Homo sapiens: one gene and its partner. The protein of the gene in region 1 interacts with the protein of each later gene in a biochemical or structural test. Each region holds a gene or a part of one and is shown in the gene's direction. Other genes may lie near its edges.

Region 1 (16,433 bases):
ATCTTGGCGGCTGTCACCTGGCAGGAGGGTCTGAGCGGGTCTGGCGTCTAGGACTGGCGCAGTTCCTACCTCAGCGACCTTCGCCCCAGCCAGACGCCGCCCAGTTTATGATCCTTTACGACCGGCTTCTGCCAAGGGGGCTCCCGCTGGCCGGCTGGTCCAGCCCACTGCCAGAAGGAGGGGCAGTCGTTTGGCCCAAGTTGGACTGAGTGCAGGGGTCAACCAGGGGGCTCAGGTCACAGGCACCGAGGCACAGGGCAGAAGGGACTGGAGAGCGGCTCATGGGTGCCGTGGGGGTAGGGGCAGGGCAGGGGCAGGGCTAGGGTGTGGGAGAGAAGCTGGGGGCTGGGGGCGGGGGCTCGGCCCTTGGTGTCGGGGTGTCTGGAACCTGCCTCCCTAGCCCAGGCTGCCCTGGCTTGGCTCCTCCCCTAAGATCTCCCTCAGGCAAAGTTCCTAAGGCCACCCCTTGAGGCTCAGAACCCGGGTGTTCCCCAGGGAGCACCTCCCTCCCTGCCTGACAGCAGGTTCTGAAGGAAAAGGCTCTCCTCACTGTGTCCTGGGGACACCCCTGCCTGCCCCAGAGACAAGTCGGCTTCTCAGGGCGGGGCTGGACAGGGCCTTAGTGACTGAGGCTAAGGCGGGGCTGTGAGGGGCAGCTGGGAGTTCCTGGGGGGCCCTGGTGCCCGACAGAGGGGGTGAGGTGAGACTCGACACTTGCCCTGCTCTTTTCATTGGCCCCCCAGAAGCCCCCAGCTCTAGGGAGAGGCCACTGGGTAGGGTCGGGGCGAGGAAGTGGCTGTCGTGAGGGGTAGGTGGAGTTCTCCTCCTCCAGGCCTGTGCGCCGAAGCTTCTGGCCTCTCATGGCTGGGGCTGGGCTCAGTGTCCTAACCCTGCACGGTGCCCTCATGGTCGCCTTCAAGCCCTGCACGCTCCGTGCTCCACAGGCTCTGAGGGGTCAAGCCACTGGTCCGAGGCCACACGAGACAGAGGGTCCGGAGTCCTCACGCCAGAGTGGATTCCTGGCACCCCAGGTGACACCTCCACCCTCCCCTCTTCCTGCCCGCCTGAGCCCCCCTGGCCCCTTCACACCCTCCCCACTACCCCTTACAGAAACACTGACCACATGGGCCCCCGGGCAGGAGCTGAGAGGGTGTCCGGGATCCCCCGAGCCCCAGAATGTTTCCTAATGGATGACAAGGGGTGGGGCGGGGCCCTGCAGTACTTAGTCGAGGTACAGGAGGTGGCCCTGATGCCAGAGATAAGGATGAGGGGCCGCCGTGCCTGCAGGTGTAAAGGGCAGCTGGGTGTGGTCAGTCCCTCCTGGGTGGATGGGCCTCCATCCATCCCTCAGCCCCGCTACACAGGGGTTGCCTCGATTACACTGAGTGGACACAGACAACTCCCAGCGTCTGGGTCTGATTCCTCCTTTATTGGTGCCAAGTACCACCCCTCCCCCTCTCCCCCATCCTGCCCCCCACCCCAAATGCAGCTGCGCTCCTGGGCCGGGCAGGTGGTGAGGGGGTTCCTTCCTCATCTGGGCCGCAAGGTTCCTTCTGCAGCAGCGCCAGCTGGTTCTGAAACCATAGGCCCAGGGGGCAGCCAGGGAGACCAGGTCCCGTCCAGGGGCATCCTGCAGAGACAGCACGTGAGGGTCTGAGGGCTGGGGCTGGAGACCCCGGCCCCGCTGCTGGAATTGGGCCTCCAGTGGCCACCAGCGCTGACCCGGGGAGGCCAGGACAGAAGGAGGGGTCTGGGGTGGGGTCTGGAGTGGGGTCTGCGGTGGGGCGGGTGCTCACCAGGCCTGCAGGATGGGCATGTTGGACCCTGACGGGCAGAGCAGACCCGCGCTGAGCCTGGTCCAGGCCATGCTGTTCTCTGCGTCCTGCTCGCTGCCCCCCGCCCCAAAACAGAGTTAGTCCTGGAGCTGGGGGGTCGCGCGTTGCTGCTGGGGCACCACGCCAGGACCCCCCACCCCACCCGGCCTCACCTGCGCTTCCCCACCAGGCCCTGTAGCAGCCGCTGGAGCCGCGCGCCCTCCCGCAGGCGGCTGAGCTCGCTGGTGAACGTCCCGTCTGAGTGTCGCCGGGCCCTGCGGGCGGTCGGGGGTCGGGGTCAGGGCGCACTGGGGGCGGGTGGGGCCCGGGGGGCGGGCGGGCCTGGCGGGCGGCTCACCTGGGGGGCGCGGGGCGCGCGGCGGAGCCCCCGAGGAGCAGCAGCAGCAGCAGGAGGGGCCGGGGGGCCATGGCGGGGTCGGGGCGCAGGAGCTGAGCGCTGCGGCCACGGCCCCGGGCCCCCGCAAGGCCCCTTTATGGCGGCGCCCGGAAAGGGGACGGCCCGGCCGCGCCCAGCGATCCCGGGAAGGTCAGGGCCGCCCCCCCAGCTGTCGCCCCGGCCCGGCCTCCCGCCCCCTCCGCCGCGCTGGCGCCCCTCGGCCGGCTGGGGGAGGGGGACGTCCCGGCCTGGGGGGCGAACGGAGCGCGGGCCTGGGACCCGCAGAGGGAACCGCACCGCGAAGCCTCGGAGCCTGCGGGGGCGGAGGGGCCGGAGGGCTTGGGGGAGGGTTTGGGGGGGGACTGGGGGGCCCCGGGGAAGGGGCTGCGGCCGGAGTTCCGGAGGCCCCTGGAGCACCTTGCTGGGGCGAGTTCGTCTCCAGCTTCAGCGTGGCGTGACTGTTGGGGGGCCGGTGTTGCCATTTTATCTGCTTTGAAGTGCGCGATTCAGGATCATTCGGTGCATCCATCCCCACCATCCGTTCTCAGACTTTCCCGTCCTCCCAAAATCCGTTCACAGACGCTCCCGTCCTCCCAAAATCCGTTCACAGACGCTCCCGTCCTCCCAAAATCCGTTCACAGACGCTCCCGTCCTCCCAAAATCGTTCACAGACGCTCCCGTCCTCCCAAAATCGTTCACAGACGCTCCCGTCCTCCCAAAATCGTTCACAGACGCTCCCGTCCTCCCAAAATCCGTTCTCAGACTCTTCCGTCCTCCAAAAATCCATTCTCAGACTCTTCCGTCCTCCCAAAATCCGTTCTCAGACTCTCCCGTCCTCTCAAAATCTGTTCACAGACGCTCCCGTCCTCCCAAAATCCGTTCACAGACGCTCCCGTCCTCCCAAAATCCGTTCACAGACGCTCCCGTCCTCCCAAAATCCGTTCTCAGACTCTCCTGTCCTCCCAGAATGAAGCTCTGTCCCCATCAAACGCCCCCTCCCCTCCTCAGCCCCGGCGCCCCGTCCACTTTCTGTCTGTGGATTCAGCGCTTCCAGGGACTGCGCGCAGGGGGAGCCTCACGGGATTTGTCCTTTGGAGACCGGCTGGATTCTCAGCGCAGCATCCTCCGCCTTCGCCGCCGCGGCCTGGCCTGTGTGGGAATCTCCTTCCCTTTTGTGGGGAACTGTGTCCCGCTGTGTGCAGGGACCGCATCGACCGCGTCCGCTCATCTGTGGGCATCTTGATGGACACCTGGGCTGCCTCCCCTTTGGGGCGACGGCGAGTAACGCTGCTGTGAACGTGGGTGTGCAAACGGCGCTTCCCGATCCCGTTTTCAAGCGTTCTTGGTGTATAGTTATGAGGGAATTGCTGGGTGACAGAGTAATTATGTGTTAAATATTCTGAGGAAACGCCAAACTGTCTTCCCAGCAGCGCAGCAGGGACACGGTTCTTGTCCTCGCCAACACTTGCTACTTTGTGGCTTTTTGTTTGTCGCGTACTAACGATGCCGGTGGGTGCGACGTGGTGTCTCGCTGCGGTTTTGATTGGCATCTCCCTAATGGCCAGCGATGTGGAGCATGTTCTCAAGTGTCTGTGAGCCATTTATACATCATGGAGTGGACGGAGAAATGGCCGTCAAGCCCTTTGATGTTCTGCTGTGGTTGCGAGTCATGCACTGTATCCGTCTGTTAAATCAGCCACAATATTTTCCCCAGCGTTTGCATCATTTCACAGCCCCGCCAGCAATGTGGGGCTGGCTGGCTGGCTGGCTTGCTGGCTTGCTTGCTTTTCTTTCTTTCTTTCTTTCTTTCTTTCTTTCTTTCTTTCTTTCTTTCTTTCTTTCTTTTTCTTTCTTTCTTTCTTTCTTTCTTTTTTTCTTTTTCTTCCTTTCTTCCTTTCTTCTTCCTTTCTTCCTTTCTTTCCTTCCTTTCTTTCTTTTTCAGAGGGAGTCTCGTTCTGTCACCCAGGCTGGAGTGCCGTGGGGCCATCTCAGCTCACTGCAACCTCCGCCTCCCGGTTTCAAGCAGTTCTTGTGCCTCGGCCCTCCAAGTAGCTGGGATTACAGGTGCCTGCCACTATGACTGGCTAATTTTTATATTTTTAGTAGAGACAGGGTTTCACCATGTTGCCCAGGCTGGTCTGAAACTCCTGACCTCAAGTGATCCACCTGCCTCGGCCTTCCAAAGCACTGGGATTACAGGCGTGAGCCACAGCGCCCGGCCTCACTTTCTCTGCACACTGTCAACATCCCTGCAGTCGCTATTTTTAACCTTCAGCCATTCTCTCTGCGGCAACACCTCCTTGTGGTCTTAGTTGCATTTCCCCAGTGGCGGGTGATTCCGAACCTCTTTCCAGGTGCTTGTTTCCATTTGCATGTTGTCGTGGGTTAAATGTATCTTCACATCTCTTGCCCGTTTTTAAATTGTTCTCTACTGCTGAGTTTTGTTTTTTTTTTTATTGTGGGAAAACATGCATAACATGAAACTTACCATTTTAGCCATTTTAAAGTATGAAGTGATACTTAGTACGGTCACGGAATTATACAACCAGCACCGCTGTTTAGTTCCAGAACTTTTTACTCCCCAGATGGAAAATCTCAAATCCATAAAGCATTTACCTCCCCTTCCCCCATCCCTTCAGCTCCTGAGTAACAATGAATTTACTTTCTGTCTCTGTGGATCTGCCTGTTCTGGGTATTTCATACCAATAAAATCCTAAAAGCTGGGCATGGTGGTACATGCCTGTGGTCTCGGCTACTTGAGACGGTGAGGCAGGAGGATGGTTTGAGGCCAGGAGTTCGAGACCAGCCTGGGAAACATAGCAAGACCCTGGTCACTATTTTTATTTATTTATTTATTTTTATTTATTTGTTTTGAGATGGAGTTTCACTCTTGTTGCCCAGACTGGAGTGCAATGGCGCGATCTTGGCCCACTGCAACTTCCGCCTTCTGGGTTCAAGCAATTCTCCTGCCTCAGCCTCTGGAGTTGCTGGGATTACAGCACCACCATGCCCAGCTAATTGTGTACTTTTCATGGAGGCAGGGTTTTGCCATATTGGTCAGGCTGGTCTTGAACTCCTGACCTCAGGTGATCCGCCCGCCTCAGCCTCCCAAAGTGCTGGGATTACACGCAGGAGCCACCGCGCCTGGCCCCAGAATTTCATTCATTTTAATGGAAAAATCACACTGCATTTGGTTCATCCATTCACCTGCTGAGGACGTTTGGTTTATTTCTACCTTGTATATATTGTGTTTGTTTGTCTGCTTGAGACAGAATCTCGTTCTGTTGCCCAGGCTGGAGTGCAGTATATGATCTCCGCTCACTGCAACCTCCGCCTACCAGGTTTAAGTGATTCCCCTGCCTCAGCCTCCTAAGTAGTGGGACTACAGGCATGCACCACCACACCCCCTAATTTTTGTATTTTTAAAAAATATTTATTTATTTATTTACTTTAGAGACGGACTCTCACTCTGTCACCCAGGCTGGAGTGCACTGACCTGATCTCAGCTCACTGCAACCTCCGCCTCCCGGGTTCAAGCTATTCTCCTGCCTCAGCCTCCCAAGTAGCTGGGATTACAGGCACCTGCCACGCCCGGCTAATTTTTGTATTTTTAGTAGAGACGGGGTTTAACCCTGTTGGCCAGGCTGGTCTCCAACTCCAGGTCTCAGGTGATCCACCCGCCTCGGCCTCCCAAAGTGCTAGGGTTACAGGCATGAGCCACTGTGCCCGGCCAGTACTTTGTGTATTTTCAGTGGAGATGGGGTTTCACCATGTTGGCCAGGCTGGTCTTGAACTTCTGGCCTCAAGCAATCTGCCCACCTCGGTCTCCCAAAGTGCTGAGATTACAGGCGTGAGCCACCATGCCCGGCCCCTTTTGTATATTGTGAATAGTGCCGCTGTGAACATTTACATACAAGCTTTTATTTGAACACCTGTCTTCACTTCTTTTGGGTATGTAACATACCCACTGAGTCATATGGCAACTCTACGTGAAACTTGTTGAGGAACTGCTGGACTTCTTCTCACAGTGACCATTTTATATTCCCAAAAGCAGTGAATGTCTCCTCATCCTTAACACTTGGTATTTTTATTTATTTATTTATTTATTTATTTACTACCATGGCCATCCTAATGGATATGGAATGGTATCTTACTGTGGTTTTGATTTGCATTTCCCCAGTGACTAATGAGGTTGAGCATCTTTTCAAGTGCTTTGTGGCCATTTGTGTGTGACATATGTATATTTTTTGTTTGTTTGTTTGTTTTGGGGACGGAGTCTCGCTCTGTCACCCAGACTGGAGTGCAATGGTGCGATCTCGGCTCATTGCAACCTCCACCTCCCAGGTTCAGGCGATTCTCCTGCCTCAGCCTCCTGAGTAGCTGGGACTACAGGTGCCCGCCACCATGCCTGGCTAATTTTTTTGTATTTTTAGTAAAGACGGGGTTTCACCATGTTAGCCAGGATGGTCTCCATCTCCTGACCTCATGATCCGCCCACCTCGGCCTCCCAAAGTGCTGGGATTACAGATGTGAGGCACCGTGCCCAGCCATATTTTTTTTAAGACAGAGTCTCGCACTGTTGCCCAGGCTGGAGTGCAGTGGCGTGTTCTTGGCTCACTGTAACCTCTGCCTCCCGGGATCAAGCGATTGTCCCACCTCCGCCTCCCAAGTAGCTGGGATTATGGGCGCCCGCCAGCATACCCAGCTAATTTTTGTATTTGTAGTAGAGACGGGGTTTCACCATGTTGGCCAGACTGTTCTCGAACTCCTGACCTCAAGGGATCCGCCTGCCTCGGCCTCCCAAAGTGCTGGGATTACAGGCGTGAGCCACTGAACCCGGCCATTTGGGTATCTTCTTTGAAGAAATGTCTATTCAAGTCCTTTACTCATTTTCATTATTTATTTTATTTTGAGACAGGGTCTCACTTTGTTGCCCAGCTTGGAATATGTTGGCTCAATCACAGCTCACTGCGGCCTCAACCTCCTGGACTCAAAGGATCCTCCCACCTCAGATTCCCAAAAAGCTGTGACTATAGGCTCACGCCACCACACCCAGCTAATGTTTGTATTTTTAGTAGAGATGGGGTGTCTTTCTTTTTTTTTTTTTTTTGAGACAGAGTCTTGGTCTGTTGCCCAGGCTGGAGTGCAGTGGCACGATCTTGGCTCACTGCAAGCCCCGCCTCCCAGGGTCACGCCATTCTCCTGCCTCAGCCTCCTGAGTAGCTGGGACTACAGGTGCCCGCCACCACGCCCGGCTAATTTTTTGTAATTTTAGTAGAGACGGGGTTTCACCATGTTAGCCAGGATGGTCTCGATCTCCTGACCTTGAGATCCGCCCGCCTCAGCCTCCCAAAGTGCTGGGATTACAGGCTTGAGCCACCAAGCCTGGCCTGTTGTGGAGGATCTTCTATACATAAGACCATGTCATCTGCAAGTAGAAATAGTTTTCTTTTCCAATTTTGGATACCTTTAATTTCTTTTTCTTGAGTAATGCTCTTGCTAGAATGTCCAGAACAATGTTGAACAGAAGCAGCAGCAGTGGGCATCCTTGTCTCTTTCAAAGGCTTTTTGTTTCTCACCATTGAGTATGATGTTAGCTGTGTTTGTATTTTGTTTGTTTGTTTGAGACAGTCCCCCTCTGTCATTCAGGGTGGAGTGCAGTGGTGCGATCTCGTCTCACTGCAGCCTCCACCTCCTGGATTCACGTAATTCTCGTGTCTCAGCCTCCTGAGTAGCTGGGACTGTAGGCGTGCGCCACCATGCCCAGCTAATTTTAATTTTTGTATTTTTAGTGGAGATGGGATTTCAACATGTTGGGCATCTGGTCTTGAACTCCTGATCTCAAGTGATCCACCCGCCTCGGCCTTCCGAAGTGCTGGGATTACAGGCATGAGTCACGGCGCCCGGCCTGATGAAGTTTGTTTCTATTCCTAGTTTATTGAGTCTTATTATCATGAAAGGGTTTTGAATTTTATGAAATGGTTTTTTCTGCATCAGTTGGGATGATCGCGTGGGTTTTTCTTCATTCTGTTAATGTGGTGTATGACATTGAATTTCGTCTGTTCGTTCACCCTTGCATTCCTGGGATAAATCCCACTGGGTTATGGTACATAATCCTTTTAAAAATGCTGTTTTTCGGCCAGGCACTGGCTCACGCCTGTAACCCCAGCACTTTGGGAGGCCAAAGTGGGCGGATCATGAGGTCAGGAGTTTGAGACCAGTCTGGCCAACAGAGTGAAACCCTGTCTCTACTAAAAATACCAAAATTAGCTGGGCATGGTGGCACGTGCCTGTAGTCCCAGCTGTTCAGGAGGCTGAGGCAGGAGAATAGCGTGAACCCGGGAGGCAGAGGTTGTGGTGAGCCGAGATCACACCACTGCACTCCAGCCTGGGTGACAGAGTGAGACTCCATCTCAAAAAAAAAAAAAAAATGCTGCTTTTCTGGCAGGCAGCACTTTAAAAGGGACTGTGTTTGCTCATATTTTTTCGAGAACTTTTGCATCTATATTCATAAAGGATACTCATTTGGAATTTTCTTTTTGTGATATCATTACTGTTGAGTTTTGAGAATTATTAATCTTTTTTGTATACAAGCCATTTGCTGGATATATGATTGCTAATTTTTAAAAAAAATTTGTTTCTTTTTTAATTTTAATTTATTATTTATTTATTTATTTATTTATTTATTTATTTATTTTGAGACGGAGTCTCGCTCTGTCGCCCACGCTGGAGTGCAGTGGTGCGATCTTGGCTCACTGCAAGCTCTGCCTCCCGGGTTCACGCCATTCCCTTGCCTCAGCCTCCCGAGTAGCTGGGACTACAGGTGCCCGCCACCACGCCTGGCTAATTTTTTGTATTTTTAGTAGAGACAGGGTTTCACTGTGTTAGCCAGGATGGTCTCGATTTCCTGACTTCGTGATCTGCCTGCCTCGGCCTCCCAAAGTGCTGGGATTACAGGCATGAGCCACCTCGCCCAGCCTATTTATTTATTTTTTGACACAGAGTCTTGCTCTGTTTCCCAGGCCAGAGTGCAATGACGTGATCTCCGCTCACCGCAACCTCTGCCTCCTGGGTTCAAGTGATTCTCCTTCCTCAGCCTGCCAAGCAGCTGGGATTACAGGTGCACACCACCACGCCCGGCTTTTTTTTTTTGAGACGGAGTCTTGCTCTGTCACCCAGGCTGGAGCGCAGTGGCACAATCTTGGCTCACTGCAATCTCCGCCTCCCGGGTTCATGCCATTCTCCTGCCTCAGCCTCCTCAGTAGCTGGGATTACAGGTGCCCGCCACCACGCCCGGCTGATTTTTTTGTATTTTTTAGTAGAGACAGGGTTTCACCGTGTTAGCCAGGATGGTCTCGATCTCCTGACCCTGTGATCTGCCTGCCTCGGCCTCCCAAAGTGCTGGGATTACAGGCGTGAGTCACCACGCCTGGCCAATTATTTGTATTTTTAGTAGAGATGGGGTTTCACTATGTTGGCCAGGCTGGTCTTGAACTCCTGACCTGGTGATCCACCTGCCTCGGCCTCCCAACGTGCTGGGATTACAGGTGTGAGCCACTGCGCCTGGCGTAGACAACCCAATTTTTAACAAAAGCAAAGATTTTTAACAGGCACATTCCAGAAGAGGGCATGCTGACAGTTAACAGGCACATGGGAAAAGTGGTCAAACATGAGTAGCCATCAGGAAAATCAACGACGTCCTACTACACTAAAATGGAAGAAACATTGCCAGACGTGGCCATTTGCAAATGTCGTTTCCTGGTCTGTGTCTTTTGATTCTCCTGACAGCATATTTGAGTTAATTTTTTAATGTGTAAGGTATGAGTGGAGGTCCTCATTAAAAATTGTTTAGGCTGGCTGTATGGCTCATGCCTGTAATCACAGCACTTTGAGAGGCTGAAGTGGGAGGATCATTTGAGCCCAGGAGTTTGAGACCGGCTGGGCTAACATGGCGAGACCCCGTCTCTACAAAAAATAAGAAAATTAGCTGGGTGTGGCACCACGCATCTGTAGTCTCAGTTGTACAGGAGGCTGAGGCCAGAGGATCACTTGAGCCCAGGAGATTGAGGCTGCAGTGAGCCATGATTGCAGTAAGATGTGATCACATCCAGTTACATTTGATTTTCAGATAAACAACAGAAGTTTAGTGGAGGCTGGGGGCAGTGGCTCACAGCTGTAATCCCAGCACTTTAGGAAGCTGAGGCAGGTGGATCACCTGAGGTCAGGAGTTCGAGACCAGCCTGGCCAATATGATGAAACCGTGTCTCTACTAAAAATACAAAAAAATTAGCCGGGCGTGGTGGCGGGCGCCTATAATCCCAGCTACTCAGAAGGCTGAGGCAGGAGAATCGCTTGAACCCGGGAGACGGAGGTTGCAGTGAGCCAAGATTGTGCTGCTGCACTCCAGCCTGGGTGATAAGAGTGAAACTCCATCTCAAAAAAAAAAAAAAAAAAAAAACAAATTGGGGTTGTCTGTCTTTTCTCATTGTTTCCATTGTTTCTGGATCTGTGTGTCAGAGATGTGTGCTGCACACATCCTTTCTCCGCCTAGCTTGGTTTTCACTCTTGGTGGTCGCAGACATCTTGGGGGCTACTTGAAGGAACTCTAAGCCGACCAGAGGCTGGGCTGGACTCGCCGTTTGGCGCCCAGCCGGAGACCCCAGGGCCACCCTCCCCGGTTCCATCCTGGGAGAGAAGAAACTTCCACTGTCCCAGTCTCTCCTGTGGTGACTTCTTTTGCTCAAGGGTTCACAAGGGCAGCAGACTGATCTGCACAAGAGGGACTGAGCCTGGCTGCGGCCGCACCTGATGCCTGTGCACACCTGTCCCTGGTGGTCTCTCCTGTGGTGACTTCTTTTGCTCAAGGGTTCACAAGGGCAGCAGACTGATCTGCACAAGAGGGACTGAGCCTGGCTGCGGCCGCACCTGATGCCTGTGCACACCTGTCCCTGGTGCAGGCCCTTCCCCCGCAGCCCCGTGACCTTGTCCTGTGAGGCTCACGGTGCCTGCTCCTTCTCAGAGTCCTCATTTCTCCCTTTAACGCACGCCCTGTCAGCGCCTCCGTCTAGCCCGTGTCCTCCAGACCTTCGAGGTCAGGGGCCTCAATTCCTGGCACAGCCCCTCCACTCCAGGCCTCCCAGAAACAGACTAGAGCATCAGGATGTGCGCCGCCTGGGGTCCCACAGAGTGGTGCCCCCTTTTAGTGTCTTCTAGGCCCCTTAGTGACAGACTACAGAAAATACCTCTCAGGTCACAGGTCACCCCTCTTTGGTGAAGAGTCCATAGAATTCTCTGCTGCGCTTTGCAAGCACTTTCTCTTCTGCACGTTTGGAACCTACCCCGGCCTGTCGTGTCTTTCTCCTGGCCTCCTCGCGAGCCGAACCTACTGTCCGGTCCCGGGACCCCCTGCCCAGGGTCAGAGGGGCGCCTACCTAGCTCACGGTCTTGGGCCGGAGGGAATGGAGGAGGGAGCGGGGTCGACCGCTCAGCTGTCCGCCCAGTTTCGGAGGCGGCCACGCGAGGATCAACTGTGCAACGGGTGGGGCCGCGGCTGACCGTGGTGGTCGCGGGGGCTGAGGGCCAGAGGCTGCGGGGGGGGGGCGGCGGGATGAGCTAGGCGTCGGCGGTTGAGTCGGGCGCGGAGTCGGGGGCAGGGGGAGCGGGCGTGGAGGGTGCGCACGAGGTCGAGGCGAGTCCGCGGGGGAGGCGGGCAGAGCCTGAGCTCAGGTCTTTCTGCGTCTGGCGGAACGGGCCTGGGAGGGAGGTTTTGCCAGATACCAGGTGGACTAGGGTGAGCGCCCGAGGGCCGGGACGCACGCACGGGCCGGGTAGGATGGCGCTGGCGTCGATGCCCGCGCGCTTCAGGGCCTGGTCTGGCCGCCCCTCCATCCTTGTCGGTTTCTCGGGTCGCGGACCCCGCGCGGCGCCGGGCGATGCTGGCCTGCCCGTGGCCACCACCTCGCTTCATTCCCGTCTCTTTGGGCCGCCGCATTCGTCCACGTGCCCGTCTCTCCCTGCGCAAAATTCCAAGATGAGCAAATACTGGGCTCACGGTGGAGCGCCGCGGGGGCCCCCCTGAGCCGGGGCGGGTCGGGGGCGGGACCAGGGTCCGGCCGGGGCGTGCCCGAGGGGAGGGACTCCCCGGCTTGCGACCCGGCGTTGTCCGCGGTGCTCAGCGCCCGCCCGGGCGCGCCATGGGGAACCGCAGCACCGCGGACGCGGACGGGCTGCTGGCTGGGCGCGGGCCGGCCGCGGGGGCATCTGCGGGGGCATCTGCGGGGCTGGCTGGGCAGGGCGCGGCGGCGCTGGTGGGGGGCGTGCTGCTCATCGGCGCGGTGCTCGCGGGGAACTCGCTCGTGTGCGTGAGCGTGGCCACCGAGCGCGCCCTGCAGACGCCCACCAACTCCTTCATCGTGAGCCTGGCGGCCGCCGACCTCCTCCTCGCTCTCCTGGTGCTGCCGCTCTTCGTCTACTCCGAGGTGAGCCGCGTCCGGCCGCACGAGCATCCTCACCTGCTCCTCGGTTCCCCGTCCCTGTCCCTACGGAGGACCCGGCGCGACCCGGCCCCTTTCTGGTGCGGAGCTTCCAGCTGGGGCGGCGGCAGGGGCGCTGCGCCTTGTCCCTCGGCGATACACCCACCGCCGCCACCTCGCGACCTTCCACCCGCTGCGCTGTCTGTCCCCCGACCCTCGTTCCTCTTCTCCTTCCCCGTCTGTCTTGGCGTCTGTTATCCAGGAGATGCCCGTCCTTCTATCCAGGGACCCCGGAAACAGGCGACTTTGTCAAGCCCAGTCCCCTCCGTAGCTGGATTTCACCTCCAGGGCAGCCAGCTGGACAGACAGGCAGATGCAGGCTCAGCCCCCTGGCTGCCGTGGGACACACACACACACACACTGCCACAGCCACTGCCCACCACACACACCTAGTGCAGATGCTGGCACACCCCCAGAAGGAGGCTCACAGCTCGCAGGGGAGACCTGGGCTGGACAAAACCCAGGGGAGGGGAGGGTGTGTGGGGACCAGGCCCCTGCTGAGAACCCTGGGGGGAAGCCTGAGGGGGAATTGGGGGATGGAGCCCACACTCCACACCAGGTCTGGCCCTCGAGTGGGTCGGCCTTGGTGCCAGCCCCTCTGCGGCCAGAGAAAAGCAGCTTAGGGCTGAGCTGGAGACGCGGTGTCCCCGACTGTGGGGGAGGGGGACTCGAGGTTTCCCCTTGATGGACACAGTGAATCCAGGCGGCTGGGGCAGAGACCAGCAGCACGGGACACGCGTGACCTGTGCTCCTTTCGAGCCGCAGACGTCACAGTGACGACGTTTAAGCTCCTAATCTCCCCAAATCGGCGGGAAGGATTAGAGGGGCTGCCTGCTCCTTTGCCCTTGGAGAGAGTCACTCCACGTGGAGTCCTACGCTGGGCACTGGGCACGGTCTTCATATTTTTAATTATAATTTATCTTCAAGACAATTATGATGTGGATACTATCATCACCCTTGTCTTACAGATGAAGAAACAGAAATGAATTAACGTGCCCGAGTCTCCCACAGAGAACTTAGCCAACAGAGCAGCCAGCTTCGCTTCTAGGCCCAGCGGGGACCCTGCCTACCCCAGGCTGGGGAGGGGCTCCCTTTGAGCCCGATGATATCAGGCCCGCCCCCAGGGAATTCCCCAGGCCGTTCTCATGTTTGTAACAAAAGGGAGACCAAGGCCAGAAGCCGTGATTCACGCCTGTAATCCCAGGACTTTGGGAGGCAAAGGCAGGAGGATAGTTTGAGACCAGCCTGGGAAACATACCAGGCCTGGTCTCTACAAAAAATTTTAAAATATCAGCCGGGGGTGGTGGCTGCGGCTGTTGTCCCAGCTATTCGGGGGAGCTGAGGCGGCAGAATCGCTTAAACCTGGGAGGCGGAGGTTGCAGTGAGTTGAGATCTCACCACTGCACTCCAGCCTGGGCAACAAGAGCGAAACTCCGTCTCAAAAAACAAAAAGAAAAACAAATCAGCCGGGGGTGGTGGCGCGCGGCTGTAATCCCAGCTACTCTGGAGACTGAGGTGGGAGGATCGCTTGAGCTCAGGAATTCCAGGCTACAGTGAGCCATGATGGAGCCACAGCACTCCAGCCGCGGTGACACAGCGAGACCCTAACTCAAAACAAAGGGAGATCTGCGTGGGGAAGGGGTGTTTCCCTGCCCGGTCCTCTGGCCTCTGGCTCACAGCCGGGCCCCCTTCTCCGTATTCAGCCCTGGAACTACCCATAAGAGTGGGGGCGGGTCACAAGGGCCCGCGGTGGCTGGGAAACCTCAGGGCCTGTGGTGTCGCCGCGCAGGTCCAGGGTGGCGCGTGGCTGCTGAGCCCCCGCCTGTGCGACGCCCTCATGGCCATGGACGTCATGCTGTGCACCGCCTCCATCTTCAACCTGTGCGCCATCAGCGTGGACAGGTGCGCCGCCCTCCCCGCCCGCGCCCCGGCGCCCCCGCGCCCCGCCCGCCGCCCTCACCGCGGCCTGTGCGCTGTCCGGCGCCCCCTCGGCGCTCCCCGCAGGTTCGTGGCCGTGGCCGTGCCGCTGCGCTACAACCGGCAGGGTGGGAGCCGCCGGCAGCTGCTGCTCATCGGCGCCACGTGGCTGCTGTCCGCGGCGGTGGCGGCGCCCGTACTGTGCGGCCTCAACGACGTGCGCGGCCGCGACCCCGCCGTGTGCCGCCTGGAGGACCGCGACTACGTGGTCTACTCGTCCGTGTGCTCCTTCTTCCTACCCTGCCCGCTCATGCTGCTGCTCTACTGGGCCACGTTCCGCGGCCTGCAGCGCTGGGAGGTGGCACGTCGCGCCAAGCTGCACGGCCGCGCGCCCCGCCGACCCAGCGGCCCTGGCCCGCCTTCCCCCACGCCACCCGCGCCCCGCCTCCCCCAGGACCCCTGCGGCCCCGACTGTGCGCCCCCCGCGCCCGGCCTTCCCCGGGGTCCCTGCGGCCCCGACTGTGCGCCCGCCGCGCCCAGCCTCCCCCAGGACCCCTGCGGCCCCGACTGTGCGCCCCCCGCGCCCGGCCTCCCCCCGGACCCCTGCGGCTCCAACTGTGCTCCCCCCGACGCCGTCAGAGCCGCCGCGCTCCCACCCCAGACTCCACCGCAGACCCGCAGGAGGCGGCGTGCCAAGATCACCGGCCGGGAGCGCAAGGCCATGAGGGTCCTGCCGGTGGTGGTCGGTGGGTTCCTGTCCTGAGGGGCGGGGAGGAGAGGAGGGGGGGGGTACGAGGCCGGCTGGGCGGGGGGCGCTAACGCGGCTCTCGGCGCCCCCAGGGGCCTTCCTGCTGTGCTGGACGCCCTTCTTCGTGGTGCACATCACGCAGGCGCTGTGTCCTGCCTGCTCCGTGCCCCCGCGGCTGGTCAGCGCCGTCACCTGGCTGGGCTACGTCAACAGCGCCCTCAACCCCGTCATCTACACTGTCTTCAACGCCGAGTTCCGCAACGTCTTCCGCAAGGCCCTGCGTGCCTGCTGCTGAGCCGGGCACCCCCGGACGCCCCCCGGCCTGATGGCCAGGCCTCAGGGACCAAGGAGATGGGGAGGGCGCTTTTGTACGTTAATTAAACAAATTCCTTCCCAAACTCAGCTGTGAAGGCTCCTGGGGGCTGATGGGGAGTGGGGAAGAGGGGTTTCTGCCTCAGTGGCCCCAGGCCCCCCAGCCAGTTAACCTCTTTCTCCCCGCCAAGGAAGCCCACAGAGCAGACCCCACCAAGCCGGCCGCCTGCTCAGGGTGAGGGGGGAAGGGGCCCCCGAGAGCCACTCAGTTCCGCAGCGCTGGGGCCCAGCTTCCCCTCTCTGCAGGGGAGAGGAAGCAGCACCCAGCAGGGCAAGGTGTCTCCTGGGGAAGCCCAGTTCCGATGGGAAGAAACAAATGGGGAGAGGCGGGGTGGGGGGCTGTCAGCCGCCAGGCCCTGCCCGGGCCAACTCCCACCTCTGAGAACCAGGCACAGGGGGCTCCAGGCTCATGCTGCCCCAGCAGACCCCGGCAGGGGAGCCCAACCTGTCATTTTAGAAGCTGCCTTGAGGCCAGAGCCTAGCTTCCTGCCAGTCCCTGGCCAGAGGATGCCCCAAGCCCCACAGCAAGGGGCCTGTGGTGATGGGTGGGGCCCCACCAAGTGGCTTCCCTGGAGGGAGCTCCGTGCTCAGTCACCCCTGGTGCCCAGCCAACCTCTGCCCAGCGTCCACCAATGTGGCTGGGCCAAGGGGTG
Region 2 (14,446 bases), on another chromosome or scaffold:
TAGCAGGTAGATTGTTCTTACCATCATGTCCTCTACCCATCTCTATGCATATTGGCTGCTAAACCAGCTACCAGGATAATGACTCTTCTGCATACAGCAGAAGGAAATTAAATTGACAGCCAAGTTAAAATAGCCTGCCAAATAAGGGATTTTTAGTTATTAACCTTACCCATTACTGTCTCAAAGAAGATATAATGGAAATTACTTTTCTAATTTGTGGCTGTCTCCTTTTTTGAACTAAAGATCAGTGCAAATGGAAATGTGAGTCTCTGAACCCTGTTATTTTAGCAGTCCTGCATCTGCCTTATTTCTCTAACAACGTGTCACAGCACACACACACTCCCCTTCCCCTCTTTCTAAAAATAATGACCATGCCACTGCCAGGTTCTTCAGTTTTAGAAATGTGCTTTTTCACACTGTTCTTGTAAGATGTCCTAGACAAGCTTTTCTCATTAAAAAGATAAAAATCTCACTTAACAAGTACTCCATCATTGGCAGAGAACAAACAGGCTTCTTTCAGGTTGACTCTTTCACTAGCTTTTTTTTACACGAGTCAGATTGTTTGAGTATTGGTCTCCAACTTAGGGTTAAAACATTAAAACCTTAGGAGTTCTTCTGGGGAAGAAGGACTTTCTAGGCACAAAATAGTGGAAGAAATGACAAAGAATAAAAACATATTTGAATAAATAAAAAAATCATATACAAAATTATGATAAATTAGGAACATAGGTTTGGAACAACCCTTTAAAGGGTTAAAGGGTTGGCCTGGCAGGGTGCCTTACGCCTGTAATCCCAGCGCTTTGGGAGGCTGAGGCAGGTGGATCACCTGAGATCGGGAGTTTGAGACCAGCCTGACCAACATGGAGAAATCCTGTCTCTACTAAAAATACAAAATTAGCCGGGCTTGGTGGCACATGCCTGTAATCCCAGCTACTCGGGAAATTGCTTGAACCTGGGAGGTGGAGATTGTGGTGAACCAAGATCGTGCCATTGCACTCCAGCCTGGGCAACAAGAGCAAAACTCCATCTCATAGATAGATAGATAGATAAATAGATAGATAGATAGATAGATACATAGATAGATAGATAAAGGGTTAAAGGGTTAAAACCATTTGTGTGTAAAGAGCTCATAAGAATGCATGAGACAGGGCCAAGAGCAGTGGCTCACACCTGTAATCCCAGCACTTTGAGAGGCTGAGGCAGGCGATGGAGCCCAGGAATTCGAGACCAGCCTGGCCAACAGGATGAAACCCTGTCTCTACTAAAAGTATAAAAATTAGCCAGGCATGGTGACGCATGCCTGTAATCCCAGCTATTGGGGAGGTTGAGGCAGGAGAATCATTTTAGCCCAGGAGGCAGAGGTTGCAGTGAGCCAAGATCACACCACTGCACTCCAGCCTGGGCCACAGAGCAAGACGCCGTTTCAAAAAAAAAAAGAAAAGAAAAAAATTAGTGGTCCCAGCTACTAGGGAAGCTGAAGTGGGAGGCTAGGAGGATGCTTGAGCCCAGGAGGTCGAGGCTGAGGCTGCAGTGAACCATAATTGCACCAGTGCACTCTAGCCTGGGCAGCAGAGCAAGACCTTGTCTCAAAAAAGAAAAAAAAAACAAGAATGCATGAGAGAAACAATAAAGATTTGAGTGTACAGTTCGCAGAAGGGCAAGTAAAGCTGGCTACTAGATACAAGGGAGGGAGTTCAACCTAATTAATAATAGGGTCTTATTAGTTATAAAGAATTAAACATAATTTTTTGCCTACCAGAGTGTCAGAGATTTAAAAACTATCCAGTGCCTCAGAAAGTAGAATGAGTTGGCACCTTTATAGTGTTGGTGGGAGTGTAATTGGTAACAGCTTCAAAAAGTCACCTTATGTCTCAAAGTAATTTTTTTTTTTTTTTTTTTTTTTTTTGAGACAAGGTCTCACTCTGGCTCCTAGGCTAGAGTGCAGTGGCATGATCTTGGTTCACTGAAACTTCACTTTCTGGGCTCAAGCAATCCTCCCACCTCAGCCTCCTCAGTAGCTGGGACTACAGGCGTATGCCACCATGGTGATCTATTTCATTTGTTTGTTTGTTTTGATACAAGGTCTCACTGTGTCACTATAGTGCAATGGCATGATTTTGGCTCACTGCAGCGTCCACTTCCTGGACTCAAGTGATCCTCCCACCTCAGCCTCCCAGGTAGCTGGGACTTGGGACTACAGGTGTGCACCACCAGACCTGGCTAATTTTTTGTATTTTTAGTAGAGACAGGGTTTTGCCATGCTGCTCAGGCTGGTCTTGATCTCCTGGGTTCATGTGATCTGCCTGCTTTGGCCTCCCAAAGTGCTAGGGTTACAGGTGTGAGCCACCATGCCTGGCTCAAAAAATTTTTTTCTAATTCAGGTTCATTACTCAGCATTCTTCCCATTTCTTTAAGAAAACAACCAGGAAAAGTTTCATATTCAGGATATTTATCACAGGGTTATTTATGTGATTGTTTATAACCCAAAATTATAAACCCTGAAATGCCTAAGAATATTATAACCATGTACTAAAAGAGTTATTCATATATTTGGAAAATGAAAAACATCAGGATACAATATAATATGGTCACATTTGTAGGTTTTTTTGTTTGTTTGTTTTTGGTGTTTTTTTTTTTGGACGGAGTCTCGCTCTGTTACCCAGGCTGGAGGGCAATGGTGTGATCTCGGCTCACTGCAGTCTCCACTTCCCAAGTTCAAGCGATTCTCCTGCCTCAGCCTCCCGAGTAGCTGAGATTACAGGCATGTGCTACCATGTCTGGCTGATTTTTGTATTTTCACTAGAGATGGGGTTTCACCATGTTGGCCAGGCTGGTCTCGAACTCCTGACCTCGTGATCCACTCATCTCAGCCTCCCAAAGTGCTGGGATTACAGGCGCTAGCCACTGTGCCCGGCCCCCATTTGTGTTTTATAAATGTGCAGAAACAAGGCTGGAAGGAAATTATGTTACATTTTGGTGTGTCTTTGTATTGTGGAACTATGGGTAATTTTTTTTTCATAATACCTGTCTGTATTTTCCAAGTTTTTTAGCAGTAAAAATGTATATTATATGTTTTATAATCACAAGGAAAATACTTTTCAATTCTTTTCAACAGGGAGGGGTAATACGTGAGTGGGGATGGTGATTATACTAGTCCTTGAGTTATTTTTAAATTTTCTAAAAGAAAATCATTTTTGTGCTAGAAAAAGCTGAACAGGCTAAATAAAGACTTCAGATTTAACTAAAATTATATCCATTCAGTGTGAAACACTGTTGCTCTCATAGTTATCAAAAGCTCTGTTGGCAGTTGCGGGGAAGTTAATTACTTAAACTCACTTTGGTAGACAGTCTGTCAAAACACAGGATCTGTCGGGAAAAATAATGAAGAGAGTCCTTCACAGCAAAGAAGTTTGGGAATCAGTGATCGAAGGATCCCAGCCATTTAGAGCCATAAAACCCCTGAGTGGCTGGTACAGTGGCTCATGTCTGTAATCCCAGCACTTTGGGAGGCCGAAGCAGAAGCATCGCTTGAGTTCAGGAGTTAGAGACCAGCCTGAGCAACATAGTGAGACCTCCTCTCTTTAAAAAATTAAAAAAAAAAAAAAAAGGTAGCTGGGTTTGGTGGCACACACTGTGCTCCCAGCTGCTCAGGAGGCTGAGGTAGGAGGATTGCTTGAGCCTGGGAGGTAGGAGGATTGCTTGAGCCTGGGAGGTCGATGCTGTGGTGAGCTGAGATTGTGCCACTGCACTCCAGCCTAGGTGACAGAGGAAGGCCTTGTCTTTTAAACAGAACAAAACAAACTCCTTTATACATCACACCAACACCTCTTACGAAGTTCCACTGTAGACATATAGTTACCAGAGTGTTTATTGGGAAAATTTCAGCCAACAGGAAGTACTGTCAGTTATCTGTGTTTTTAATATAATCTATTTCCTTTCTACTTCTTTTCTCCCACCCTTCAAAAGGTGCCTGAATGAAATCATATCAAGAAAGAGAGGGGTTTTTTCTTTATTTTATTTTTGAGACAGTCTTGCTTTGTCACCCAGGCTGGAGTGTAGCGGCATGATCTCGGCTCACTGCAACCTCCGCCTCCCAGGTTCAAGTGATTCTCCTGCCTCAGCCTCCGGAGTAGCTGGGACTACAAAATGCACACCACCACACCTGGCTAATTTTTGTGTTTGTATTTGTGTTTAATTTTTTTGAGACAGAGTCTTGCTCTGTCACCTAGGCTGGAGTGCAGTGGTGCGATCTCTGCTCACTGCAACCTGCATCTCCCAGGTTCAAGCGATTCTCGTGCCTCACCCTCCCAAGTAGCTGGGACTACAGGTGTGTACCACCACACCTGGCTAATTTTTGTATTATTAGTAGAGATGGGGTTTCACCATGTTGGCCAGGCTGGCCTTGAACTCCTGACCTCAAGTGATCCACCCGCCTCGGCCTCCCAAAGTGCTGTGATTACAGGCGTGAGCCACCACGCCCAGCCTTCTTTATTTTATGTTACTTTATTTTATTTTTTGAGACAAGTTCTCACTCTGTTCCCCAGGCTGGAGTGCAGGAACACGACCTTGTTCACTGCAGCCTTAACCTCCTGGACTTAAGTGATCCTCCCATGTCAGCCTCAGGAGTAGCTGGGACTACAGGCATTTGCCATCACACCTGGCTATTTTTTTTTATTATTTTTTTCTAGATATGGGAGTCTCACCATGTTACCCAAAGTGGCCTCGAACCCCTGGGCGCAAGGAATCTGCCCACTTTGGCCTCCCAAAGTGCTAGGATTATAGTCATGAGCCACTGTGCCTGACTTCTTTAGATATATATATTTATTTTTGGGGGGTTGGGGGGTGGGGCAGGGAGTTATATAAAGCAACAGAAATAAGAGCTGAAAAATCAATAGAAAACTTTAAAATTTGCATAGCACAGGAAGTACCTCTTGGTTGGTGTGGGAATTTTTATTCATACATACATCATCTGCTGGCATATTCATCTACATGGGAAATGTGTTTGGATAGAAGGATCACACTTACCTTGTCTATTCAAGTCAGGAAGAAAAGAGGTGGAGTAAGAAAAAGGAATAGGTAGGGAAATAGTGTTCCCAAAGAAGAAACAAATAACTTGTGGTCCTAGCTTCTCCCAACTTGAAGTAATTTTAGGCAGACATAAAATTACTTCAATCACTAAAGAACCCTTCATTCTTATGCTTTGATTTTTTTATTTATTATTATTATTTTTTTTTTTTTTTTTTGAGATGGAGTCTTACTCTGTTGCCTAGTCTGGAGTGCAGTGGTGCAATCTCGGCTCACTGCAACCTCTTCCTCAGTTCAAGTGATTCTCCCGCCTCAGCCTCCCAAGTAGCTGAGACTACAGGTGCGCATCACTGCACCCGGCTAATTTTTGTATTTTTAGTAGAGACGGGGTTTTGCCATGTTAGACAGGCTGGTCTTGAATTCCTGACCTCAGACAATTTACCTGCTTTGGCCTCCCAAAGTGCTAGGATTACAGGCATGAGCCACACCTGGCCATGCTTTGATTTTCGAAGGAGCTGACTCCTGAGACCTACTTGCTGGCTCACTTTGGAGAGGGTCCACTTTATTTGGCAAGTACATAAGACAAGTGCCCTCTTAGAAAAACTCCGTGGTTTATGTGTGAGTGTATATGTTTTATTAAGAAAAATCTCAAACATAAAAATAGTAATATAATGATCCCCCATACCCATCACTCAATTTTAACAATTATCAACACATAGCTTTTTCTTTGAGATGGAGTTTTGCCTTATTGCCCAGGCTGGAGTGTAGTGGCGCTATCTCAGCTCACTACAACCTCCACTTCCTGGGTTTAAGCATTCTCATGCCTGAGCCACCCGAGTAGTTGGGATTTCAGGTGTGCGCCACCACACTCAGCTAATTTTTGTATTTTTAGTAGAGACGGGGTTTTGCCTTGTTGGCTAGGCTGGTCTCAAACTCCTTACCTCAAGTGATCTGCCAGCCTTGGCCTCCCAAAGTGTTGGGATTACAGGCATGAGCCACTGCACCCAGGCTATTTTGAAGCAAATTCCAGACTGGATATTATTCCATGCCTATGTGTCATACTTCCACGTGTGTCTCTAAAAGATAAGGAAAAAAAATTCTGCCACATCTAGAATGCCATTATCACTGTTTAAAATCACACAATTCCTTATTCTCACGTGTTTGTGTAATTTTTTTTCCATAATTTTTTGTTGTTTGTTTTTGAGTACTTATGTTGTTCAAATCAGAATCCAGACAAAGTCCACACGTTGCTCGTGATTTCATGTCTCTTTTCAGTCTCGTTTTAATCCAAAAGTTTCCATCCTGTTTTGGTTTTTCCCAGCCAGTTTATTTCTTGAAGAAGCCAAGCTGTTCGACCTGTAGAATTTCCCACATTCTAGACTCTGCTGTTGCATCTTTGTAGTGTCATTTAACATGTTCTTCTCCCATGTATTGCCTGTAAACTAGTGGTTGGATTAGAGGCTTGTTAAGAGTCAGGCTCAGTTTTTTGGAAAAAAGACGAGGTGGTAGTGTGGTCCTTCCTATTCATCACCATTAGGAAGCACTCAATGTCTCATAGTAATATATTGGCTTTTGAAATAATGATTCTAGCCCAGCAATTGATGATAATTGTCAAATCCATTACTTCATTAGGGGTTTATCTGTGTTTCCTGTCAGCTTCAAGGTACTACATTTGCTCTTTCAAGTCCAGGTTACTCATAAGATCACTTTGGTCTCCTAGATGCTTCCTAGTGATTGAATTTTCCAAAGCTCCAGCTAACTATTCTCTCCATGAGTTCTAATGGAGCACATGCACAGGGGATTTTCTCAAAGAGACTTTGCTCTTTGAAAAAAGCCAAGGCAGGTGCTGTGGCTCATTCCTGTAATCCCAGCTACTTGGGAGGCTAAGGCAGGAGTATCGCTTGAGGCCGGGAGTTTGAGACCAGCCTGGGCAATATAGCAAGACCCTGTCTCCAAAAGCCAAGGTAGGAAATATTTTATCAGAGTAAGGCGTTAGGGGAAGGGGAAGATATAAAGGCTGTCAGAATAGCTTCTTTGGGAAAATAGAGAAAAAGACTTTTCCTTTAAAACTCTAGTCTTTTGTTGCCTGGTGGTTTTGATGAATTGGCAGGGAATGTGATCATATAGTTGACTAAATTGGAGAAGGAAGTGTTCATGGAAAAGAGATTTTAGGCCAGGCACAGTGACTCATTCCTGTAATCCCAGCACTTTGGGAGGCTGAGGCAGGAGAATCACTTTAGGCTAGGAGTTTGAGATCAGCCTGGGCAATATAGCGAGACCCTTTCTCAATTCAGAAAAAGAAAAAGAGATTTTAAATCCATCACTTGGATCCTAAGTTTCAACATGTAGCTTTTTTTGTGACAAGGTTAGGAGAGTTCTTTCCCCATTACAACAAAAAACCTCCCAATTTGAGTTTTTCAGGCTAAGTGCAGAGAGTGCCTTTAGGCTCTCACCTGCACTTAAGACCTCAAGGATTATGTCAGCCAGTCATCTCAATAGGTTGAAATGGTGCAGTGTTGCCGGGCACAGTGACTCACACCTGTAATCCCAGCACTTTGGGAGGTCGAGGCTGGCGGATCACTTGAGGTTGGGAGTTCGGGACCAGCCTGACCAACCCCATCTCTACTAAAAATACAAAATTAGCTGGGCGTGGTGGCACAGCCTGTAATCCCAGCTACTCGGGAGGCTGAGGCAGGAGAATCACTTGAGCCCAGGAGGCAGAGGTTGTGGTGAGCCGAGATCATGGAATTGCATTCTAGCCTGGTCAACAAGAGCGAAACTCTGTCTCCAAAAAAAAAAAAAAAAAAAAAAAGAAAAAGAAATGGTGCAGTGTCATGTTGAAGTTTGCTTTCTAGAGTTTTAATGTCCAGAAATTTAAGTTTCAGAGACTCGAGAGCTACAGCCTCAAGGAAAAATAACTCCCCATTCGACAGCCTTATGATTATCTCCCATTTCGGATTGCATCCCTCAGCCACATAAAACAAGACATCCTAGAACTGTTTCTGTTGACACTTCCCTGTGACTAGTTACCCATCCAGGGATGCTGAACTAACCCATCTTTTTTCTGCCTTTGTCTTCAGGAGCCAATGAAGTGCTTTTGGTGGTTGGGGGCTTTGGAAGCCAGCAGTCTCCCATTGATGTGGTAGAGAAATATGACCCCAAGACTCAGGAGTGGAGCTTTTTGCCAGTAAATAATGGTGAAACCATTCGTTGGGAGGGATGTTAAATGTCCTCAGTCTCTGCCTCCAGATCATAGCTAATCCAGCCTTAAGAGTAGAAAAGCCTAATAACAGGATGTTTCTTACAACAGTCTTGTGCATATAGTAGGTACTTACTTAACAGTTTTTGACTGTTTAGATTAGAAGATTATGCCTTAGAAATGTCAGTGGCCCTGTGTCAAGGTAAACTCAGATGGCCACCACTAGTTAGGTGCCTTTCTAAGCTGTCTGTATAATTCCTAGCACATTTCATTGGTCGTGCTGTGTTAAACTGAACTGAATGTTAAATTGTGTTGAATTGAACCCAGTGTTCAGTTGAGCTCAGAAGTTTGGGCTGGGCGTGGTAGCTCACACCTATAATCCCAGCCCTTTGGGAGGCTGAGATGGGAGGATCTCTTGAGGCCAGGAGTTCAAGACCAGCCTGGGCAATATGGTGAGACTCTGTCTCTACAAAAAAGTAAACAAAAAAATTAGCCAGGCATGGTGGTGCATGCCTGTAGTCCTAGCTACTTGGGAGGCTGTGGCAGAAGATTGCTTGAGCCCAGGAGTTCGAGGTTGCAGTGAACTGTGATTGTGCCACTGCACTCCAGCCTGGGTGATAGTGAGATCCCAACTCAGAAAAAAAAAGTTTGTATCTGTCTCCCTCAGCATGTCTCTCAGTGCTGAATGAACAATAGTAATTTCTGAGAAAACATGGAAATCCAACCCTCCTACCTTTTAAGGTTCTTATAATAAATCCTCATCCTTTGATTAGCAATGTGGGAATACTTTTCTACTTTATGGAAGGATATCAGTCTCTTAGCCCAGTGCCTTATGGAAGAGAAAGGAGTCAGATATTGGATAACAGAAAGCTGTTAAATCTTTTGGAAGCCTTGGAAAGAGGCAGAGATGCAGAAAGCTTGTATCTTTAAGAGCACCACAACAGGCATTTCGTTCAGTAGGTAGCTATTTGGGAGCCACTTGAGGATGAACCACTTAAGGAGGGTTCATGATGACAGGTGAAGAAGCAGAGAGGTGTGCAGATACAACAGGGAAGATAGCAAAAGGTAAGGCCCAAAACTTGCCTAACTGAAATGCTCTGTACCTCTTCTCTCCAAATCCATAGAGCATCACTCGTAAGAGACGTTATGTGGCCTCAGTGTCCCTTCATGACCGGATCTACGTCATTGGTGGCTATGATGGCCGTTCCCGCCTTAGTTCAGTGGAATGTCTAGACTACACAGCAGATGAGGATGGGGTCTGGTATTCTGTGGCCCCTATGAATGTCCGACGAGGTCTTGCTGGAGCCACCACCCTGGGAGGTAGGCTGGATGTGCAGGGCAATTATTTCCATCTTACTGTGGCTGGACCAGGGTTTTTAACCTCTCCTGTTGTCTGGCAGGAGCATGAAATACGGAGAAAAAATTAAGGTCAAATGTTATTATTATTTGAGACAGGGTCTCTCTCTGTTGCCCAGGCTGGAGTGCAGTGGTGTGATCACGGCTCACTGCAGCCTCAACCTCCCCAAGCTCAAGCGATCCTCCCACCTCAGCTTCCTGAGTAGCTGGGACTACAGGCATGCACCACCATGCCCAGCTATATTTTTGTATTTTTAGTAGAGATGGGGTTTCGCCATGTTGCCCAGGCTGATCTCTAACTCCTGAGCTCAAGTGATTGACCCACCTCGGCCTCCCAAGGTGCTGGGATTACAGGTGTGAGCCACTGTGCCCAGCCGACAAATACTCCTTTTTGCTTTCAGAAATATCAGTGTAATAGAAGCTGTTCAATATTCATGGATGTTTCATTATTGACTACAAAGTTGGCAAATCAAGTTCCAATGTGCTGGGTGGGGAACTGGCACTAGTTGTGTTTTTGCAAACTCCTAGGTGGTCTTTGAATGCTTTTAAGGATTTTGTTTTACCCCATTCTTTTTAGATGTCTTCCTTGTCTATAAAACTTAATTGACTTATCTCATTTAAAAATACTTTGTTTTTGCTCTCAGACTTTTAAAGGACCCTTGGAAAATTTGTAGAGGAAAGAGTTCTTAGAAATCTCTCATTCTCTAATAGTCTGTAATTTGTTTATTCTGAGCAGATATGATCTATGTCTCTGGAGGCTTTGATGGAAGCAGGCGTCACACCAGTATGGAGCGCTATGATCCAAACATTGACCAGTGGAGCATGCTGGGAGATATGCAGACAGCCCGGGAAGGTGCCGGACTCGTAGTGGCCAGTGGAGTGATCTACTGTCTAGGTATTGAGTCTGGGATGCAGGAATGGGAGGGAACTCAATGGGTAATGGGCTGTGGGTAAGGATTCCTTTTTACCAAAATGACGTTCATAGACTTCCCTTCAACTAAAACCCTGGTGTGTCTTAATATATTTTCCATTAATTGGGATTATCTTTTTCTTATAAGCATAATGTCAGATTTCTCTTAGAGTTATTGGAACTCTTGTGGGAAAATTGAAACTAAAATAATTAGTTGAAGCACTCAGAAAAAAACCGACCAGGAATGGGCATGAGGATTTACCACTCTTTCTGGAATGGTCTCTGTCTTCCAGGAGGATATGACGGCTTGAATATCTTAAATTCAGTTGAGAAATACGACCCTCATACAGGACATTGGACTAATGTTACACCAATGGCCACCAAGCGTTCTGGTAAGACCAGATCTGAGGGAGGGGACAATAGGCGATGCTGTCAGACCTTTACATATATAATGGTGGTGCATGGGACAAACCGTAGATTAATGTAAAAATGAGATTCTGCTCTCCTCCTTGTCTCTGTTTTCTCTAAATACTAGGATAAAGACAGTTGATACTTACAACTAGATTATAAATTTGAAAGCAAAAGCCTTCATGTCTTTGTTCTCTCCCTACGTTTTAGAATATCTAGTACAATTTTGCCTGTGTAGTACATGCTTAATAAATATCTGTTAAATAAAGTCTCTAATGCATAAGGACAAAAGAGTAGCTACTTACCTTCACCAAGAGCTTTTTGAAGTGGAGCAGGCTGGGATATAGAAAAGGAGAGAGCACTGTGCTGTTCTAGTTTACTTACTCTGGGTAAAAATTGCTTCAGAACCATAATCACAACTCCTTTCCCTCCATCTACCTTTATTGCCACCTTTTTTTCACTTCCTCCCTTTCTCCTAATTAGAAGGGTTGGGCTCTGAGTTAATGAAAGTAAAGAAGAGAACCATTTTTATTATTTATCTTTTATCATTTCAAGTCCAAGCCAAAGGGTTTATAGATGGAATAACTTGTGCTGGACTAGATTATTCTAGGCCCGTGTGGGCCCATTCCATATCCCTCATCTACTGTAGAACTCAGCTAGTCATTAGTGACCGTAGTTTATTTCTATAATTCAGATTCTAGGCTTAGTACCATACATTTGCTAATGCATTCATTTTCCCCAGGTGCAGGAGTAGCCCTGCTGAATGACCATATTTATGTGGTGGGGGGATTTGATGGTACAGCCCACCTTTCTTCCGTTGAAGCATACAACATTCGCACTGATTCCTGGACAACTGTCACCAGTATGACCACTCCACGATGCTATGTAGGGGCCACAGTGCTTCGGGGGAGACTCTATGCAATTGCAGGGTGAGGATTTAGAAACGAATCCAGACTCAATATGTAGCCAGAGCAAGAGTCTATGTGATCTGATCCTCATTTTTGGACAGAGACAAGACTTGGGTAGGGGTAGACATCTCCAGTGGCAACTTGATTTTTTTTATTAGATTTTTTTTATTTTTTAGAGACAGAGTATTGCTCTGTCACCCAGGCTGGAGTCTGAGTAGAGTAGCTGGGACCACAGGTGCACGCCACTGTGCCAGACTAGTTTTTTATGTTGCCTAGGCTGGTCTCCAACTCCTGGGCTCAAGCAATCCTTCCACCTCAGTCTCCCAAAGTGCTAGGATTACAGGTGAGAGTCACCATGCCTGGCCTCCAGTGGCAGCCTTAATGAAGGACTTGTGTGGAAAGGAATAGAAGGCTAATTTCTTTCTTTCTTTCTTTAAATTTTATTGAGACAGGGTCTCACCATGTTGCCCAGGCTGGTCTCAAATTCCCTCCTGGGCTTAAGCAATCCTCTTACCTCAGCCTCCTGCATAGTTGGGATTACAGGCACGTGCCACTGCACGCAGCTGACTCATTTCTTTCTTTTGCTTCTTTCCCACTCAGATATGATGGTAATTCCCTGCTAAGTAGCATTGAATGTTATGACCCTATCATCGACAGCTGGGAAGTCGTGACATCCATGGGAACCCAGCGCTGTGATGCTGGTGTTTGTGTTCTCCGCGAGAAGTGACCATTGTTGGAGCACCATCCAGAGCTAGTGACCAGTCCAGTGGACAGTTAGTGGGAGAATCAAAAATCCTTTCCAGAATGTCTGTTTCTCACTATGTGCACCGGGTGATTACAGGCACCAGTGCAGTGATGATTGTACTTATTTGACACATACTCCCCGTCGTCCTGGTTCTTGTTCCTGAGAAGGGTGGGTAACAGATATTCCAGGAAAAAGAATGCACATTGAATGGATGTGAGAGACCACATTGCCTCTCCCACTGCTTTGGGGAGCACTTTCCTGTCATTTCTAACTTACCACATGCTTGGTGTACTATATGTATGTTGTGCCTCATATGTTGCAAAGAACTAAGGTGAGTATAGCCTACTAGATATGGGCAATATCCAGCCTAGATGATTGGAAAGATACCAGTTTAAGTAAACTTGGTAAAATCCAAGTCTTTTTTTTTTTTTCCAGGAACAACTACATTTTCTCATATACAGGTAGCTAGGGGCAACACAGTTCCATTCTAGAGGGAAACAAAAGGGAGAGCCCCACAAAACTTTGGGGACAAGGGAGAGAGAGACTCATCTGACACTTCTTTTGGAGGTCAGGATTTGTATATCAGAATTGAAGTTAGAATTAAGTGAATTAAACTGAATTTGATTGTGAGTGAACCTAGAACAGCACTGAAGTATTACATAACCTGGAAGACTGAGAAGGGTATATTATTTGAAGGATCTTTTTATTTCCCCGAGGTCTTTCGCACTGGAGACAGCATAAAAGAGTGAACAAATGTTGGGATGAGAGAAGATGACATCAATGTGGGAGTTCAGTATAACTGGGGATAAACTAGAAGAACCTGTGATTTTACAGTCATCTTATTACCTGCCAGGGCTCATCTAGCCATGGCAATGTTTGCCTTGAATGGGGGTGAAAGCCTTTCTTTGTTGGATCAAATACTACTACACTATTACACTTCCACACTATTTATTTGGGGATGGGCTGGGAGTGACAGTAGCCTAGTAGTTCAGCTACCTGATTACTGCCCCATTCTTTTAGAAGCACATGTCTGCCAAGGAGTGGTTTGTACTGCTGTGTTTGGTACATCTAGTCTTTTTTCTGCTATAAGTTTTCCTTACCTGTCCTTTAGTGTAGATTTTATTCATCACAGGACAGAATAATCAAGGACAACCAAAATCCTTTTGTTAGTTTCAGTACCTCAGCTATCAACATTTCTGAGCTACCATTCAATGTTCCTCTGTGTCATGGAGTGAAATTCTTGTTTTGTGGGTATTAGGAGTGTGGGAATGTGATAACCTAAACAACCTTTGCTCTGAAATTCCATTTTTCCCTCTTTCCCTGAGTTGTATTGACCTACAGAGTTAATTTCCTTTGTATTTTTTTAAGAAAATATTAAAAATCAACGGTCTCAAATGCCGAGAGTTTGTGGCTAACCAACATTGCCTTTAGTAGATATTTGGGAGGGAAAGATGTAGGGATCAGCCGTAGCTCCTGTCTCTTCAAGCTGTTCATCTTGTGTGTTTGCCAACTAGTTCCGCTATTTCTATGTTAGACACAGGTAAGAGGTAGCCACTTTACACTTTGGAGATTCTCATCAGTAAAATATTTACCTGATTTGCCATATTCATTAGCCCCTCTGACGCTTGGAGTTACTTGAAAAAGGAATACAGAAAAGATCTTGAATTCACTTAGCACGCGCTTGAATTTCAGGGTTTCAGTCACACCAGTCCTTTTTTCCATTTGCTTTGAATTGTGGCATGTGATATAAACAGCTATGCGGAAGGCCTGCAAAACTGAAACAGTCCTGATGCTTCCAGAGCAAAAGGAAGGAGGAGCCACATGAGGAAGTTATTTTCCTTAAAAGATGCCTACCAACTTTGGCAGATGGATTGTGCATGCTAATTAAACCAAAG

The links.
Region 2: of the proteins of DRD4 (region 1) and KLHL12, one has a biochemical effect on the other in vitro, tested with the Homo sapiens proteins (2 studies listed by BioGRID, with this or other methods).

The regions. Positions count from the first base shown.
Region 1 is NC_000011.10:624,901-641,333, forward strand, and holds DRD4 (D(4) dopamine receptor), read left to right. Parts: upstream 1-12,368; 5' UTR 12,369-12,404; coding exon 12,405-12,689; intron 12,690-14,532; coding exon 14,533-14,645; intron 14,646-14,747; coding exon 14,748-15,406; intron 15,407-15,500; coding exon 15,501-15,703; 3' UTR 15,704-15,806; downstream 15,807-16,433. Other genes in the region: CDHR5 (cadherin-related family member 5 isoform 1 precursor), read right to left, coding at 1-2; SCT (secretin preproprotein), read right to left, coding at 1,531-1,630, 1,797-1,889, 1,988-2,089, 2,173-2,243. UniProt on the Homo sapiens protein: Dopamine receptor responsible for neuronal signaling in the mesolimbic system of the brain, an area of the brain that regulates emotion and complex behavior.
Region 2 is NC_000001.11:202,890,620-202,905,065, reverse strand, and holds the end of KLHL12 (kelch-like protein 12), read left to right. Parts: intron 1-8,105; coding exon 8,106-8,212; intron 8,213-9,348; coding exon 9,349-9,544; intron 9,545-10,316; coding exon 10,317-10,475; intron 10,476-10,783; coding exon 10,784-10,882; intron 10,883-11,640; coding exon 11,641-11,827; intron 11,828-12,406; coding exon 12,407-12,533; 3' UTR 12,534-13,946; downstream 13,947-14,446. UniProt on the Homo sapiens protein: Substrate-specific adapter of a BCR (BTB-CUL3-RBX1) E3 ubiquitin ligase complex that acts as a negative regulator of Wnt signaling pathway and ER-Golgi transport.